Linked DNA regions of Homo sapiens: region 2 is linked to region 1. Evidence: fine-mapped expression QTL. Tissue or cell type: blood mononuclear cells. Region 1 holds a variant in brackets; the other region holds the start of a gene. All regions are shown on one strand. Distances are between the middles of the regions.

Region 1 (8,108 bases):
TTTGGATAAGTATGCTACCGGCCGATGCCAAGAGCCCAAGAACTGAGTTAAGACTCCAACTGCCATTCCTTGACATTCATCCACATACAAAAAAAGGGCTTTTTTACATTTGGCAACCCTAGTGCCGGGGCCTGGATGAGAGCTTCCTTTATATCCTTGAAGGCCTTTTCCTGTTTCTTTTGCCATAGGAGGGGCTCTCTTTCCTTTCCTTTTATAGCCTCATACAAGGGCCTTGCTGTAAGGGAGAAGTTTGGAATACAGATTCGGCAGAATCCTGCCACGCCTAGAAATTCCCTGGCCTTGTAACTGGGGTGGGCAGTGCACATACAGCCTCCTTGCGTGCACTTAAGCCTGCGCTGGCCTTGGGATACCATGAATCCTAGATATCCAACCTCCTGAAAACAGACTTTTGCCTTGTCCTTGGACACTTTATAACCAGCTTCACACAGCACGTGAAGAAGCCTCTCTGTTCCTTGGAGTCATTCCTCCCTCGTGGGGGCGGCAAATAGGAAATCATCAATGTGTTGTAATAGCACATAATTGTCACTAGGTGGCGCAAAAGCCTCAAGATCTGTAGCCAAGGCCTCCTCAAAAATGGTAGCATTCTTAAACCCTTACGGCAGCCTTGTCCAGGTATATTGCGATTGCCCCCTCTGACTTTGGGGAGCAAGCTTCAAACAAAAGAAGGCATCCTTTAAGTCCAGACATGTGAACCAAGTGGCATCAGCAGGAATCTGTCCCAACATTGTGTATGGGTTGGGTACTGTTGCATGGATAGCGACAGTGGCCTTGTTTACCACCCGGAGATCCTGCACTGGCCTGTATTCCCCATTTGATTTGTGCATGGGTAACAGAGGAGTATTCCATGAGGACTTGCATTTTACTATAATCCCATGTGTATAAAGCCGATTCAGATGCTTTTGTTATTCCATCAATTGCCTCCCTGGGTACTGGGTATTGACGGACTCATACCGGGGCAGCATGAGGGTTAAGCTCTGCTACCACTGGGGGTCTGTTTGCAGCAAGTCCAGGGTATTATCCTCGGCCCATACACCTGGTACCTTGAAAAGCATCCCCCATATATTGTGTAGGTCGGTTCTGGTGACCTTCTGGCACACGGTTCACACAGCCACCATTCCTCAGCCCTTGGGACAGTTGGAGTTCATACCATTGCCTTGGACTTTCCAAACTCCAGTGTCATATTCCCTTTAGGCGTAAAGAAAATTTCTGCCTGCAGTTTCTGGAGTAAGTCTCTCCCCAGCAAGGGCACTGGACAATTTGGCATATACGGAAACTCATGCTGCACTTCTTGTCCCCCAATAACACATCTCCTGGATTTGCAAAAAGGTCTCTTTTTTTTGGCCCCAGTAGCCCCTACAATAGTAGCACAGTTCTTTGTGGGGAGGCTAATTGGGTGAGTTACCACAGAGAAATCAGTACCAGTATCGACCAAAAAAATCCATTAATTGACCCCCTATTTCCATAGAGACCATAGGCTCCCCGGGGCCTAAAAAGATGGAGCCTGGTCTGTCTCAGTCCTCAAAATTCTTGGCCCCTGCTAAGCCAATCAGATCAGGATCTGCCCTTGATGCACCATGACTAGCAACCGAATAACGCACTTGGGTGTTAGACCATTGACCATCATTTCCATCCTTTTCCTTTTTGGGTCACTCATCTTTCCAGTGGCCCATTTTCCTGCACTTTGCACATTGGTTCCTGTCCAACCAAGATTGGCTTTCCTCTCCTGGTCTTGTCTGCCCCCTTCCTCGACCTCTGCCTTGGCCACGCCCTCTAGCAAATTCAGGGTTACTTTCTGCTAGTGCAGCAGCTATAAATTGAGCCATCTCTGTTCCTATATCTGGTTTTTCTTTCTTCCTTTGGTTGGGCTGCCTGAGCCACTAATGCCTTATAATATCTCTTTAGACAGGGCTGTAGACACTTGGGGTGAGTTTGTGCTACACTGAGCCAAGAGTCTATATAGGGAAACTGGTCTGGGTATCCTGGTTGTCTTCCAACTCCGGTGACCACGTTAAACACACGGCCAATTAATTTTCTGTCTATTGTACCTTCAGAGGGCCACCCCACATTGAAAGCAGGCCAATCTATTTCACAGTATGTCCTTAACTTTTGAGCATCCAGTTTCATCCCATAATCACCTCTAAATCCTTTTTTAAAATTCTTTATCACGCACTCCAAAGGAGTTGGCTTCGACACTTTTCCTCCCATTTCCTCCCTTGCAGTGCACTTTCCCTCTCACTTTCACTCTCAGATCCACCAGACCAGGTCCTTTTATGGGAGTTTCAGACACTGCTTAGCCAGGAATGTGCCTTCCCCTGTCACAGCCTGCTGTGGCTGTGAAACTGGTCCCATTGGCCGTATGCGGCATCCTAGGTCTGATTTCTTCCACGCTCACCTTGGAGTACACAGCCTGCCCTAAGGGATCTGTGCCTCCTCACGTTACTCCCCGCATTGGCCTCTCCCAAGACCATCTCTTTCATACACTTTCACACACCTCCCCTGCCCAGGACTCCTCATCAGACGAAACGAGCCTCTCTCATGTCCTGGGTGGGTTCACACACACCCACACACTCCCAGTTCCTGTCTCCAGATCCAGTAAACCACTTTCACTTTGTTAATGGGGACACGAGGTTCATCCAAATTAGCAAGCCTCTCCTGCCACCCCCAGCTGCTCTGGGTTGGATTAGTGGTCATTCCCTGGGAGGTGATCATCCTTATGGGACAGGCTTCCCTGCCTTAGGCACTTGCTCCTTACTACAGTTCCTGAAGTGCTGGCATCGTCCTGCAGCCCTGTTCCTGGTTCTGTTGCATTGCCGGGCAGTCTGCTGGGATGTGGGGAGAGCCAGTCTCTGTCTGGGTGAAGCTCCCCTGTGGCGTGCCTTGGATGCTGGGTCTCCCCAGCCCTGGGGCTCTAGTCCCCCAGGCAAATGAGACAGTAAATCTGTTGTCTCCAATCCCAGGCGAGTTCCCAGAAATGTTACGAGATTTTTAAGGAATCAGAGAGACCAATGGGGCTCAGGAGGATATTTATTAATTATTTAGGTGCACTGGTCCAGTCGGATTAACATCCAAAGGACTGAGCCCTGAACAGAGTTAAGTTACCTTTTAAGCATTTCGTGGGTCGGGGGAGATCTGTGCAGAGGAAAGTATACTACAGAAGTGAGAAACAAAGGCAATTGAGACATGCATTATATCATTTTTTACTTTTCAAGGAAAAACATGTTTTGCAACTTGAGTTTTTCTGTCTAGTGACCTTGCAGCTGCACAGCTAAGGAGACAGGGTCTTCACAATGCCTGGGAAAGTGGGAGAGATAAGGCTCACTAGCCACAGAAAAACAGGCAGTTAATTTTAAAGGACTTCAGCTCTTTCTCTTTCTTAGGGGGAATTGGGTTTTCTTACATACA[A/G]CTGAGTTTCTGCTTGCACACTCTTTAATTTCTTTTAATTCCTGTTCCATACATACACTGGAATATTCTTTTGGAATGTGTTCTTCCTTTTCTTTCTAAGGGATACAGGCACAGAAATTTGTGGCCTATAGCTGACTGTCCTGTTGAGAATTACTGAACTGAACTGAGCTGGTTGAGAACTTTGTTATAACTTTCACATTTTATTGTACTTTTGACAAAGGGCAAAAGAAAAGTTAAGTTCTGTGTAGAATAAACCCAAAGCTATGTTTGCATAATCTTATCAGTTGTTTTGTATGTTGGCAGATACTATCTTTACTTTCAGAAAACACAGAGAGATCAATTATTATACTTGATCTACAGAGTGCTCAGATAATATAATAAAGTAAGTATGTGATTTCTACTATGATCCCAAAGAATTATATTCACAAAGGCAGTAGATAAAAGGTAGGGAAAACAATGAGAACATCCAGTATTACTTATACAAGAAAACAATGTGATTTCCCATGTGTTTAAGAGTTTCATTGGGCCGGGCGCGGTGGCTCACGCCTGTGGTCCTAGCACTTTGGGAGGCCGAGGGGGCGGATCACGAGGTCAGGAGATTGAGACCATCCTGGCTAACACGGTGAAACCCCGTCTCTACTAATGGTACAAAAAATTAGCCGGGCGTGGTGGCAGGTGCCTGTAGTCCCAGCTACTCAGGAGGCTGAGGCAGGAGAATGGCGTGAACCTGGGAGGTGGAGTTTACAGTGAGCCGAGATCACGCCACTGCACTCCAGGCTGGGCGACAGAGTGAGACTCCATCACACACACACACAAAAAAGAGTTTCATTGATACATTATGTGCATCTTCTTTTGTGCCACTTACCACATGGTTACATGGAGGAGTGTTTTGTTTAGCATATACATTTTCCTTCTCATGCTAATGTATTTTGTTTTTAGAGGCTAAAAAGCAGTCAAGGTCCAGGGAGCCCACTCTTTTCTTTTACCTTACAGACCTTGGTGTTTGCGGTGGGTCTATAGGGTAATCATAGAGTTTTCAGGCTAAGCCTGTAAGAGTGGTCCACCGTAGATATGACCTTGGACCTGACTGGAAAAGAGAAAAACATCAACATCACCATCAGATATTCAGCCATTAGAGGAACAGCTTTGCCACAGTATTTTAGTTCTGCACAAGGCACTATTCAATGAGGCAGTCCACTGTGTGGCAAACACACCTGTTCAAGTGAGGCTGGATTGTTCTGAGAGGTCTTAAGATTTCATGACTCTCAAGGATCTGCCCACCTGGGACTGACCAGCACAGTACTCAGGGTCTATGGACTTCAATGTTGGAGGATGGACCTCAGCTTGGTAAAATCCTGGGCTATAACCACCTCCTCTTGTAACCAAAAAGCAGGTTAATTGGACTTAGAGTCCAATTAACAAGAGCAAGGCCTTGTACAAGAAAAGTGAATTTATTTCCGAAGCTAGCTAGGGGAAGGGGCATAAAGTGTCTTGTTTTAAATGTGATGCTTCACCTTTGTAGCAAAAGTGAAATCTTTTCTAAGTTGACCAGAGAAGTGAGCAAGGGCAGGGGGTCTCCCTGCTACCCTGGTTTCTTATCTACCAGACAGTTGAGTTGGTGCCTTTCTGGGCAGAAATAAGTTGTAAAAGTGGCTAAATGGAAAGCATGCCCTCCTGAGGTGACCCTCTGGAGGTGGGATTTCTGTGGGGACATGCTTTGATCTGCACTTCAACTATCAACTCTAGAGGAGAGCTCCATCTTGGGGCACACGGATGAACTTGCGCTGTAGGGAAAGTCTGGTGACTGGGAGGAGAGAGGTTATTTTGCATTTCAAAAAGGGCTAAATAGGAAGCAGGGGGAAAGGAGAAAGGAGAAAAGAACAGAAAAAAATAATTAAACTACCACTTAGAAAAATGGGGGTACTTGGTTACACTCTTATTTCTGAGGTCAGTGTGGTGCCCTTTATCTTGAAAGGATTTAACTTCGGCTATAGTTGCTTAGAACTTACTAAATCTAACTTTGAATCATATTTTAAGTTAGAAAGTATTTTGCTGTCCCCTGCTTGGCCTTTCTAGTTATCTTTTCACATGAACATGCTTTATCTTTCCAACTAGGTTGTGAGGATGGAAACATTAGTTCATTCAGCTTTTCTTCCCCATAGTGCCAGACACCTAGGTACTTTAAAGGTGTTGACAAGCTATCTACTGGCTGAGTGGCTTATTTGAGAAAAATACAATGTCAGAATTTCACCTGCACTTCATTGCTGGGAGCCATCAGCTTGCTAGACGTAGACATGAAGAGGAGAAAGCATGAAGAGAATGGGCAAGGGGGAGGAGGGAATGAGGGAAGAAGATAACTAAGGGATGGTGTAATAGGGAGGGCAGAGAAGAGATGGGAGAAATTGAGTTGTATGACTTCAGAGCAAGTGTCCTTAAACATAGGGCATATTAGGAAAGACTATGCCCCCTTAAAGTTTGGATGGAACCTAAAATCTGTACACTTGTCAGCTAAATTGGTCTCCTTTGATAATATTGGCAACATGTGTCACGAAGATTAGACACAGAAATTGGAGAGATTGTAAGAAGTGTGCAGAAAATATTTCCATGGAAGATCCAGCCTAGTTGGCAGCCTCAGGTAGGATCATAATTGAAATGCTAGAATGTTACAGTAGGCATTGTTCCAGGGCTAAAACTTGTTATTCATAACTTCAACTCTAATTTTATTCACTTGAATTTTCAGAGTGCAGCTGTAAGGGGCCACAAAAGGTTCCCTGGCTTAGTTGCTATTCTGTAATTACATGTAAAGCCCTGATCAACTTCCCGAAAGCCTGTGCAAGGCTTTTCTTTCTTTCTTTTTTGTTTTGTTTTGTTTTTTTTTTTTGAGACACAGTCTCGCTCAGTCGCCCAGGCTGGAGTGCAGTGGCTTGATCTCCGCTCACTGCAAGCTCCGCCTCCTGGGTTCACGCCATTCTCCTGCCTCAGCCTCCCAAGTAGCTGGAACTACAGGCGCCTGCCACCAGGCCCAGCTAATTTTTTTTGCATTTTTCTTTTTTAGTAGAGACTGGGTTTCACCGTGTTAGCCAGGATGGTCGCGATCTCCTGACCTCGTGATCCGCCCACCTCGGCCTCCCAAAGTACTGGGATTACAGGCGTGAGCCACCGCGCCCGGCCTGTGCAAGGCTTTTCTTGAGAGCATGTGCTGAGACAATTTTTTATTTCAAATCACAGAATTAAGAATTATGTCATTGGTTAGAAGGGTAGAGCATAACTTACATTAGTATATTTGCAATGACGTATTTGCTTTCCTGAGGTAGTGTGAGGAATAAGAAGGCAATAGATATTCATATTTCTGAGTGTACTTTTATAAAGTGAAACACTTTTGAAACTCACTGTTTAAACAATAACAAAAAACAAATATTGTATGTTCTTACTCATAAGTGGGAGCTAAGCTATGAGGATGCAAAGGCATAAGAATGATACATTGGAGTTTGGGGACTCGGAGGAAAGGGTGGGAGTGGGGTGGGGGACAAAAGACTACAAATTGGGTTCGGTGTATACTGCTTGATTGATGGGTGTCCTAAAATCCCACAGATCACCACTAAACAACTTACTCATGTAACCAAATACCACCTGTTCCCCAAATACCTATGGAAATAAAAAAACAACTTAATAAATAAATTCTAAAAATAATAACAAAACTCACAAATCTAAAGAAACTTAAATGAAAACCTGGCCAAAGGTTTTACCATTTTTAGCTTCTGAGTTATGCTTTTGTTTTATTTTAACTGATATTCTTGAAATATTTAATTTTATAAAACTAAACTTTGAAATGTGAATGTCTTTTCCCTTGACATCACTCGCAGTATCAAAAAGAAGTAAATGTATTGCTGTGTATGTTTAGTTATATCTATGATTATATGTATTTCATGTGCAGTTGTACATATGAATTTAGAGTTGTCATTTTCAATTAATTTATAAAATTTTTACAGTTCTATGTTACTCCTATAATTGGTATGTGACAAACCTCTCAGTGTTCCTTCTACAGATATCCAACTTTAGATACTGATAATAAGAATTAAATTAATAGCTTTCGTCACTTACTGAGTCCCTGCTCTTTACCTGCCAGGCGCAGTGTTAGACATGCATGCATTGCGTCTTTCACTTGTCACAGCAATGGTGTAAGGTAGATGTTATTCCTATCCTCACCTTTCTACCTATCTCCTACTAAGGCAGCACAATGTATCTCAGCTGATTTAAGGAGTTAAATTTAGGTAACATCAAATCAAGTAGAAGTATAGAATTTAAAAATCATCAGTGCAATTATTTGATAAAGCATAATGTCAACTCTGGAAGAAGGATAACTTTTAAAGTTATGAAGCAATAAAAAAATCAGAAAGAAAAATATGGACCACAAAACTAAGAAAAAGAGGAAAACAACAGAATGGGGAAATATTTGTAGTGAAAAACGTAAGCATTAGTTATTTTAAATGTATTTTTTAAGTTATTAAACATTGGAAGAATACCACCAAATGTCCAAACGTTCAGTGAAGAATAAAACAAATCACAGAACAAAAAGCACATAGAAGAGCCTTAAAAAAGGTGTTAACTTCACTATGCAACAAGGAACTATAAATATATTTTTAAATTAAATTTATATTTTATTTTATTATATTTTTGAGACAGAA
Region 2 (8,108 bases), 53 kb before region 1:
CATTTCTCTGGAAAGGAAGAAAGAGAACGAGTAGTTGTATTTCTATTACAGACAGTCAGGGATATAGAAGACTATTAACAACATTACTAAGTCTATTACTAAATCTGTCAATGTGTAGTTCTGATATCTTTCCACTTTGCCTTCGGAGGAGAAATTACACACTAAGTTTATGTCCTTAGATGAATTTCACAGCTGAATAGTGAGGGACTGCAAAATAACCGGTGAAAATGAGAGTTGGTCAGAATCAGCATTAGGGTCTGAATTTTTCACCTTTCTTTATGGTATATGCTATGGAAAATATCAATTAACTTGTAACTTGAGCTTTACCTTTTTACTCTATTGCTAGGAGTGAATCATATTACAACTATTTGAAGCTAGAAGACTGTAGTGGTGCTGTGTATCTTGGATTTCTCTTGATTTTTTGCAAGTGCAGTTAGCCAGAAGGTTTTTTTATTTTTTATTTTATTTTATTTTATTTTATTTTATAGCAGTTCTGACTGATGTGGTCCAGCTACCCTCAGAGCCACTGACCTTGGGCCAATATGTTGCCTACTCTTAAGTATTTTGAAATACTGCATGGAAAAAAATGTCATTTATTTGGTTGTATTACTATATTTAATTAGTTGAATAGATATGGTTAGTTTAATTTGTTAACTTGGCTAGGTGATGGTACCCAGTTATTCAAACACTAATCTAGATGCTGCTGTGAGGGTATTATATAGATGTGGTTAACATCTATAATCAGTTGCTTTAAGTAAAGGAGACTGTCTTGGATAATCTTGGTGGGCCTCATCCAATCAGTTGAAATGCCTTAAGAGCAAAACTGATATGCCCAGAGGAAGAAGAAATTCTGCCTGCTGACTGCAGCCTCAGTTTCCACCTGAGAGTTTCTAGGCTTCCCAAGTTCCCTACAGATTTTGGACTTACCTAGCTGGACCCCACAATCATCTAAGGCAATTCCTTGAAACAAATCAAATACATATATACCCTGTTGGTTTTTTTTTTTTTTTTTTTCTGAAAGAACCCTGACTAATACAGATTTTGAAACTAGAAGTGGGATGTTGCTGTACTAAAGACCTAAAATGTGGAATTGGCTTTGGAATTAGGCCATGGATAGAGACTAGAAAAATTTTTGAGAAGCGTGATAGAAAAAAACCTAAATTGCCCTGAAGAGACTGTTGTTAGAAATAGGAATATTAAAGTTGATTGTATAGAGGTCTTGGAAAGAAATGAAGAAAATGTTACTGAAAATGGGAGGAAAGGCAATGCTTGTTATACAGTGACAGAAAACTTGGCTGAACTATGTTCTTCAGTCACATGGAAAGCAGAACTTGAAAGTGATGAACTTGGATATTTGGCAGAAATTTACAGGCAAAATCCTTAAGATTTTTCTTTGTGAACCCCAAGATCTTTACCCTAAAATGGTTCTGTTGAATTTTACCCTGACAATGTAAATTGATAGCTTATCTTCATAACCTGGTTTCTCCTTGCTGCTTATAGTAAAATGTAATATTGATACAGACAGGAGACAGGGAAATACTGGGTAGAAGAGGGTGGTTTCCCAGCAAAGGCCCCACCCTCAAGTCTGGAAACCCGTGGCCCTAAATGGGAACAAGCGTTCCTGTTTTTGTGCCCAAATGCTGCCTTTTGGCCTGCCACGCCCCTGTATCCTGTACCTGTATAAACTCCAAACCCCAGGATCCACAAGCAGATGAGCAGACAAGCAGAAGAGCAGAGGAACAGAAGAGTGGTGTGGCAGAGAAGGAGAGAAGAGAAGGAGCTTCTGAACATCAAGAGGAGTTAGGCTGGGGACGGTAGGAGAGGAGATCAGCCAAGGGACGACTGAACTCCAGGGGAAGATTATCTTCCCACTCCATTCCCTTTCCAGCTCCCCATCCATCCTGCAGAGAGCCACCTCCATCCAGCAATAAAATACGCCACATTTACCATCCTTCAATTTGTCTGTGTGACCTGATTCTTCCTGGATGCTGGACAGGAACCCAGTACCAAGAGGGCACTGAGCTGTTTAACACTTAAGCTGTCCCTGGATGGCAGGGCTAAAGGAGCATTGTAACATCCCTGGATATTGCTGTAGGCCCAGAGCCCAAAAGTGCTTGCCCTAGCTCAAATGCGTGCTCCCCCTCCCATAAGGGGTTTGAGCATGCAGTGGCCAAACAGACGAGCCACACCCCTGTTGCAGGCCCTGCAAGGGGGGTCAGTGAACTCTCCCATTTCAATGTGAAAGATATAAATTGAGGAAAGAACTATTAGGCAAAAAGTAACTAGCACTTGATTTTGGAGGTTCTCAGCCTATCGTGATTCCAAAGGATGCCAAAATTAGAAAATTTATTGTCGCAAAAGCATACTCTGAAGAGAAGGCCAACAGTATGGCTGGACAATCTTGCTAAAGAGATTATATATGTGATTCATGGATCCAATCAACCATATCAGCTGAAGGCAGGAATAGAGATGGGTTTATCCAGGAAGGATCTTGTCTAATGACATGGACTCCCATAACACACACGAGACTGATAAGGATTTTGAGAATGTTATATCAACAGAAATACTGGCATCTTGGAGTAAAGGAGATAGATATGGGATGAAATGAAGGAAGACTGTTGGACTTCTGGAAATCTATAGGCAGGATATGAGCTGACAGGGCTACTAGACTGCAAAGACACATTAGCCTTCAAGAAAAAGGAAGAGTGAATTATGAGGGTGGCACAGAAGCTGGTGGATCACTGCAAGACCAGATGGCAGAACATTGAGCTAAAGAGGATTGTTCCTAGGCCTTGAAATCTAATGGAATTAGCTATGCTAATTATTTATTTATTTACTTTTTTGAGATGAAATCTCATTCTGTCACGCAGGCTGGAGTGCAGTGGTACAATCTCAGCTCACTGCAACCTCCACCTGCCAGGTTCAAGCAATTCTCCTGCCTCAGCTTCCTGAGTAGCTGGGATGACAGGAACTCACCACAATGCCCCTCTAATTTTTGTATTTTAGTAGAGACGAGGAGGGGGGTTTCACCATGTTACCCAGGCTGGTCTCGAACTCCTGACCTCAAGTGATCCACTCACCTCAGCATCACAAAGTGCTGGGATTATAGGCGTGAGCCACCACACCTGGCCCTGCCATGCTAAATTTTGAACTTACTTGGGACAAGAAACCACTTTATGCCTCCCATATTCATTCTTTTGGAATGGTAATGTCTTGTAAAAGGAAAATAAATCTCAGGACTCCAAAATCATTAAGCCAAAGGGAAAAGTCAAGCTGGGAACTGCATCAGGCAAACCTACCTCCCATTTTATTCTTAAATAAGATAGCTACAAACAAAAAAAAAAGCTACATACATGTCTCACAATTTGTCCACTGGGACATTCCTTTTGAGCCCCAAGATGTTTACCTTAAAATGGTTCTGTTGAATTTTACCCTGACAATGTAAATTGATAGCTTATCTTCACAGGTTCTAGACAAAGAACAGAACTCAAAGTCATCCTTCTGTTCATCTGAGACAGATGCATATCTGATTGCTTTCCTAATGTAAAAATGCAGATTCACTGAGCTGACAAAGGCATAAGTAACTATTCCTCTACCCTTCTCTCACATGTAAACTGTGTATTCAGTGAAAGGTTTATCAAACACTCAAAATAATGCAACCATTTGTCTGTTATCTACCCACACCTTTAATTTTTTTTCCTTTTCCCCCAATATCTGCCCTTTTGCCTTTAAATACTGAAGTCCACAAAATCTTCTTTGGAAAAAGGCATAGACCTGCCTTCCAGATGCATGTTCTTAACCTTGGTAAAATAAAATTTCCAAGTTAATTGAGACCTAGCTCAGATACTTTTTGGTTTACAAATTGGTAACCACCAAGGGATTCTGAGTGGAGGTGCCCCTGACCTTTGACAAATCTTCTATTACTGCTTGGTACCAGCTTGAGATATCTTTATTGCTCAAATCAATAGGCAGATTTGCTGAGGCCTGGGAACTTCCCCCCTCCAGACAATCCCTTGTAGCAGGACGAGCTGCAGACAAAATCTTTCAGACACTGAGTTGTAGAAGGAAGGGCTTTATTCAGCTGGGAGCATCGGCAAGCTACTGTCTTAAAATCCGAGCTCCTCGAGTGCACAGTTTCTGTCCTTTTTAAGGGCTCATAACACTAAAGATTTCACATGAAAGGGTCGTGATTGATTGAGCAATCTAGGGGGTATGTGACAGGGGCTTCATGCACCGGTAGTCAGAGTGAAACAGAACAGAGCAGGGAGTTTCACAGCGTTCTTCCATACAATGTCTGGAATCTATGGATAACATCGGTTGCTAAGTCATGAGTTGATTTTTAACTACTAGGTTTAGGCCAGGCAGGCCCAGGCCTGGTTTCAGTTCTGGTTTTGGGTCTGGTGCCTGGCTGCCTGCCCTTGGTTTCACTTCCTTGTTTTTTTCTTAAAACAGGTACTGAGTATAAAACAATATAAAACAATATGAGAGGGTCCGTCTCTTCCCTCACCCTGATCTCCCCAAATTTGGTCGATATCTAAGGTTTTTTTTTGCTGTACAACTCCTTTTCTGGAGTTTTACTCACTTTCAACAAGGAAGGTGAGTTTTCCTGCTTCCATGATGATGGAGGGCAGGCAACTCCTTTCTGGAGTTTCAGCTCAATTCCAACAGGGAAGGCGAGTTGGAGTTTTTTTCCTGCTTATAGGCTGGTAGAGAGCAGTGTTGAGCCTGGACTCCATTCCTAGGTAAGTAGCTGAATTGGGGTTTTATCTTGAAAATTCTCCTTAATGACCTAAAGTTAAGATTAACAACCAGCAGCTCTTAATTTCTCCTTACCATTAGAGTGCTCAGGAATTGTATACATAGTATGATCATTTGTTTGTTTTGCCAAACTGTTTTTTCATTTATTTGTTTGTTTTGTTGTTTTGGTCTTTTTCCCATTGGATTTGACTAACTCTACCCAACTATATCAAATGTGAAGGAAAGTTACAAATGGTGAGGAACAACGCCTCTGCATTGGGTAAATTCCTGCAGCTGGGGGGGAAAAGGGAAAAGGATAAACAGCCATCAACAGGAAAAAAGAAAGATTTTGACTACCTGAGGGGCTTTATTTACATAACAAGGCCACCTTTTGCTAGCCAAGCCAAACTGTGCTCCACACTGCAGTTCTGTAGCTAAGGTTTTGCCCTTTTTTCCACCACAACAGCCTGGGTTTGGTTCCTAAATCAAGTTCTTTCTGGTTTGATATTTGTGTTATTTTTGAAATATCAGCAATTTGTTCCAGCTAAAATAGGGTAGTGAGATTTAGAAGAATTTTTTAAGAGCTTAGTGGCTAAAAGTCAGTTTAATTAAAAGCTAATATCCACGATGTGTGTGTGTGTGTGTATATTTAAAAGGCCTTTATGGTTTTTTGTTTTGTTTTGTTTGTTTGAGAAGGAGTTTCACTCTTGTTGCCCAGGCTGGAGTGCAATGGTGCGATCTTGGCTCACTGCAACCTCTACCTCCCGGGTTCAAGCAATTCTCCTGCCTCGGCCTCCCAAATAGCTGGGATTACAGGCATACGACACCACACCCAGTTAATTTTGTATTTTTAGTAGAGATGGGATTTCTCCATGTTGGTCAGGCTGGTCTCAAACTCCCGACAACCTCAGGTAATCTGCCTTCCTCAGCCTCCCAAAATGCTGGGATTACAGGCGTAAGCCACCGTGCCTGGCCTGTTTTTTTTTTCTCTCCTAGTACCTTGTTTTTTGAGAAAAAGGTTTTTTCCTTCTCAGTCAGTCAAATGAATTCTGTTTTCTCCATTTACTTCTGCCTATCTCTCCTTTCTCTTGTTCCCCTCTGCTGCATGAGGGACCCAAAATAGTTTCTAACAGCCTGTAATTCCTTAAATAAAACAGAGAAGGCACTAGAGTCCTTTTTGAGGAGAAACATCTGTTTTTCCTTATGGAACCCCAAGAGTCTAAACAGACAAGTTCCTCTCAGATCTTAAACTGCTTGCTTTTGTACTGTGTTACCTGATTTTTGGACTAAGTTATTACAACAGAGGCTACTCTTCGGGTGTTTAAGATAAGAAAAGGTATACTTTAGACACTTAGAGGAAAGTCTTTGTAACAAAGTGCAGTGCAAATGCATCACATGGTCTAGAATCATGATAATTCTATCTTTTGGAGATCCAGGATTCAGCGTGGGCTCTGCCCAGAGCTGAGATCCAGTTAAAAGCTAGAGACTAGGCTGGGCACAGTGGCTCATGCCTGTAATCCCAGCACTTTGGGAGGCCAAGGTGGGCAGATCACGAGGTCAGGAGTTCAAGACCAACCTGGCCAACATGGTAAAACCCCATCTCTACTAAAAATACAAAAATTAGCGGGGCATGGTGGCAAGTGCCTGTAATCCCAGACACTTGGGAGGCTGAGGGCATGCCCAGCCGATGCTACACTTTTAAACAGCCAGATGTCATGATTACTCACTATCATTAGAACAAAACTAGAGGGGAAATCTGCCCCTATGATCTAATCGCCTCTCACCAGGCCCCATCTCCAACACTGGGGACTACAATTTGATATGCCTTTGCAATATCAATTGCTGCATACCAAGTTCTCTCTGTTTTGGGCCTCTGTAATAGTCACAATGTCAGGTACTGCTGGTGCCAAAGGTGGTATTACGCATTGAGCTGCCTAAAATCAGTGGTAAGTCTCCAAGAAACCAAGGTCTTGTGCACAGGCCAGATGGGGCTATTGAATGGAGAAACAGTCTCATGAAACATTTTGGCTTCCTTAAGCTCAGCAATGATGGCAATTATTCTTTTTCTCCCCTAGGCAGCTGACATTGTTTTTTGGGAAACAACAGTACTAGGTGTTGGTCATCAGATGGGTCCATGGTCTTCTATATTTCTCACTAAGATGGCCATAACTATTGCAATTCCTGTCAGGGCTTGGAGGCAAAGGCAAGTGGGGCTGCACATGGAAAACACATCACTGCCAATATTTCATTCAGTAGTGGGGGCCATGACAACGGAGGTTAGTAGGAGCCCAAAGTCAGAGAACACGATCTGTTTTCTCCTCATCTTGATGCAAGGGTTTGTGGGGATCACAGTCACCTGTGTACTGGTATCTAAAAGGCCTAAGAAGTGCAATTCCTCTCCACTGTTCAGTTGAACTCTAACCTTGGCATAGGGCCTCTGGGTCCCCTGAGTACAGAAGGATCTTGTTTATAACCCCTAAAATCTTTGGATTTTTGTTTGTAACCCCTAATCTTGTTTATATTTGAAAGCTGAGTGTCAGAGCAAAAGTTGCTCAGGATCTCTGATTTGTCTCCAAATCCACCAGGAGAGGTGGAAGGCCATCACTGTGCAGACTCTAGCGGGACCACTTATCAAATCCCCATGGCCTGGTACTTGGCCCTGAATTTTTTAGTGGGGAGCCCATCAATCTGCTTTCGTGGTTCCATTATTGAGTAATCAGACTCAGAGATCTCTTTGGGAAGGCCCTTGCCCAGACAGTCCAGAAGAGGGCACTCAAGTACTATTTTTATGCTCCCTTTTTGGAGGGGAGGGGTCAAATTTTGCTATTTTATCGGAAGCCATTTCTTCTGTGCCTGAGAATTTCTGAGTTAAGATCTGGATCACACTGCAGATTGATGGACTTGACCTCAGGAGGTGGCTTAATTGGGCTTGACAACAAGCAGGAGCAGCATGAACAAACCCGTAAATCTAAGTCTGGTTAATCTTCTCATCTACCGTTCCCACTCCCTCGTAGTAGACCCAAGAGACCACCAGGAGGGCTGCAGGACCTCCATAGTCTCTGCGAAGGTGGTTGAGACATGTTTTTCAGTGACTAGGTACTCATTATGTGTGGACCAAATCTGTCAGAGACCAAATAGTACCCAGCTGAGGAAAGAGATGGTCGTTGGTATACATACACTCTCATCTCCCCACCTTGCTCCTCCTCCTCAGAGAAAGTGGCCACTATCAAGGCACTATGGAGGAGGGGGTCTGTAGTGATGTACCCCTCAAGGAGCCACTTTCCTTTATGAAGTTTATTTAACAAGATTACCTTTTTCGTAATGGAAGCAAACTAGCCAAGTCTCTGTGGTTTCTTCCCCTAAGCAAGTCT

What was found. PIP is the estimated chance that this variant, and not a neighbour inherited with it, causes the effect.
Region 2: it holds the start of RHOXF1-AS1, and the variant in region 1 is fine-mapped to the expression of RHOXF1-AS1 in blood mononuclear cells (TOPMed, PIP above 0.99). The same link has a PIP of 0.9 or more in whole blood.

The regions. Positions count from the first base shown.
Region 1 is chrX:120,085,223-120,093,330 of GRCh38, forward strand. The region is part of intron 1 of RHOXF1-AS1 (RHOXF1 antisense RNA 1); the gene reads left to right. Among named protein-coding and RNA genes, the nearest start is that of RHOXF2B, 12 kb to the left of the region's middle. The variant A/G (reference allele first, on the strand shown) is at 3,424.
Region 2 is chrX:120,031,791-120,039,898 of GRCh38, forward strand. It overlaps RHOXF1-AS1 (RHOXF1 antisense RNA 1), which reads left to right and starts at 4,446. Exons shown (of 5, transcript NR_131238.1): 1 at 4,446-4,742.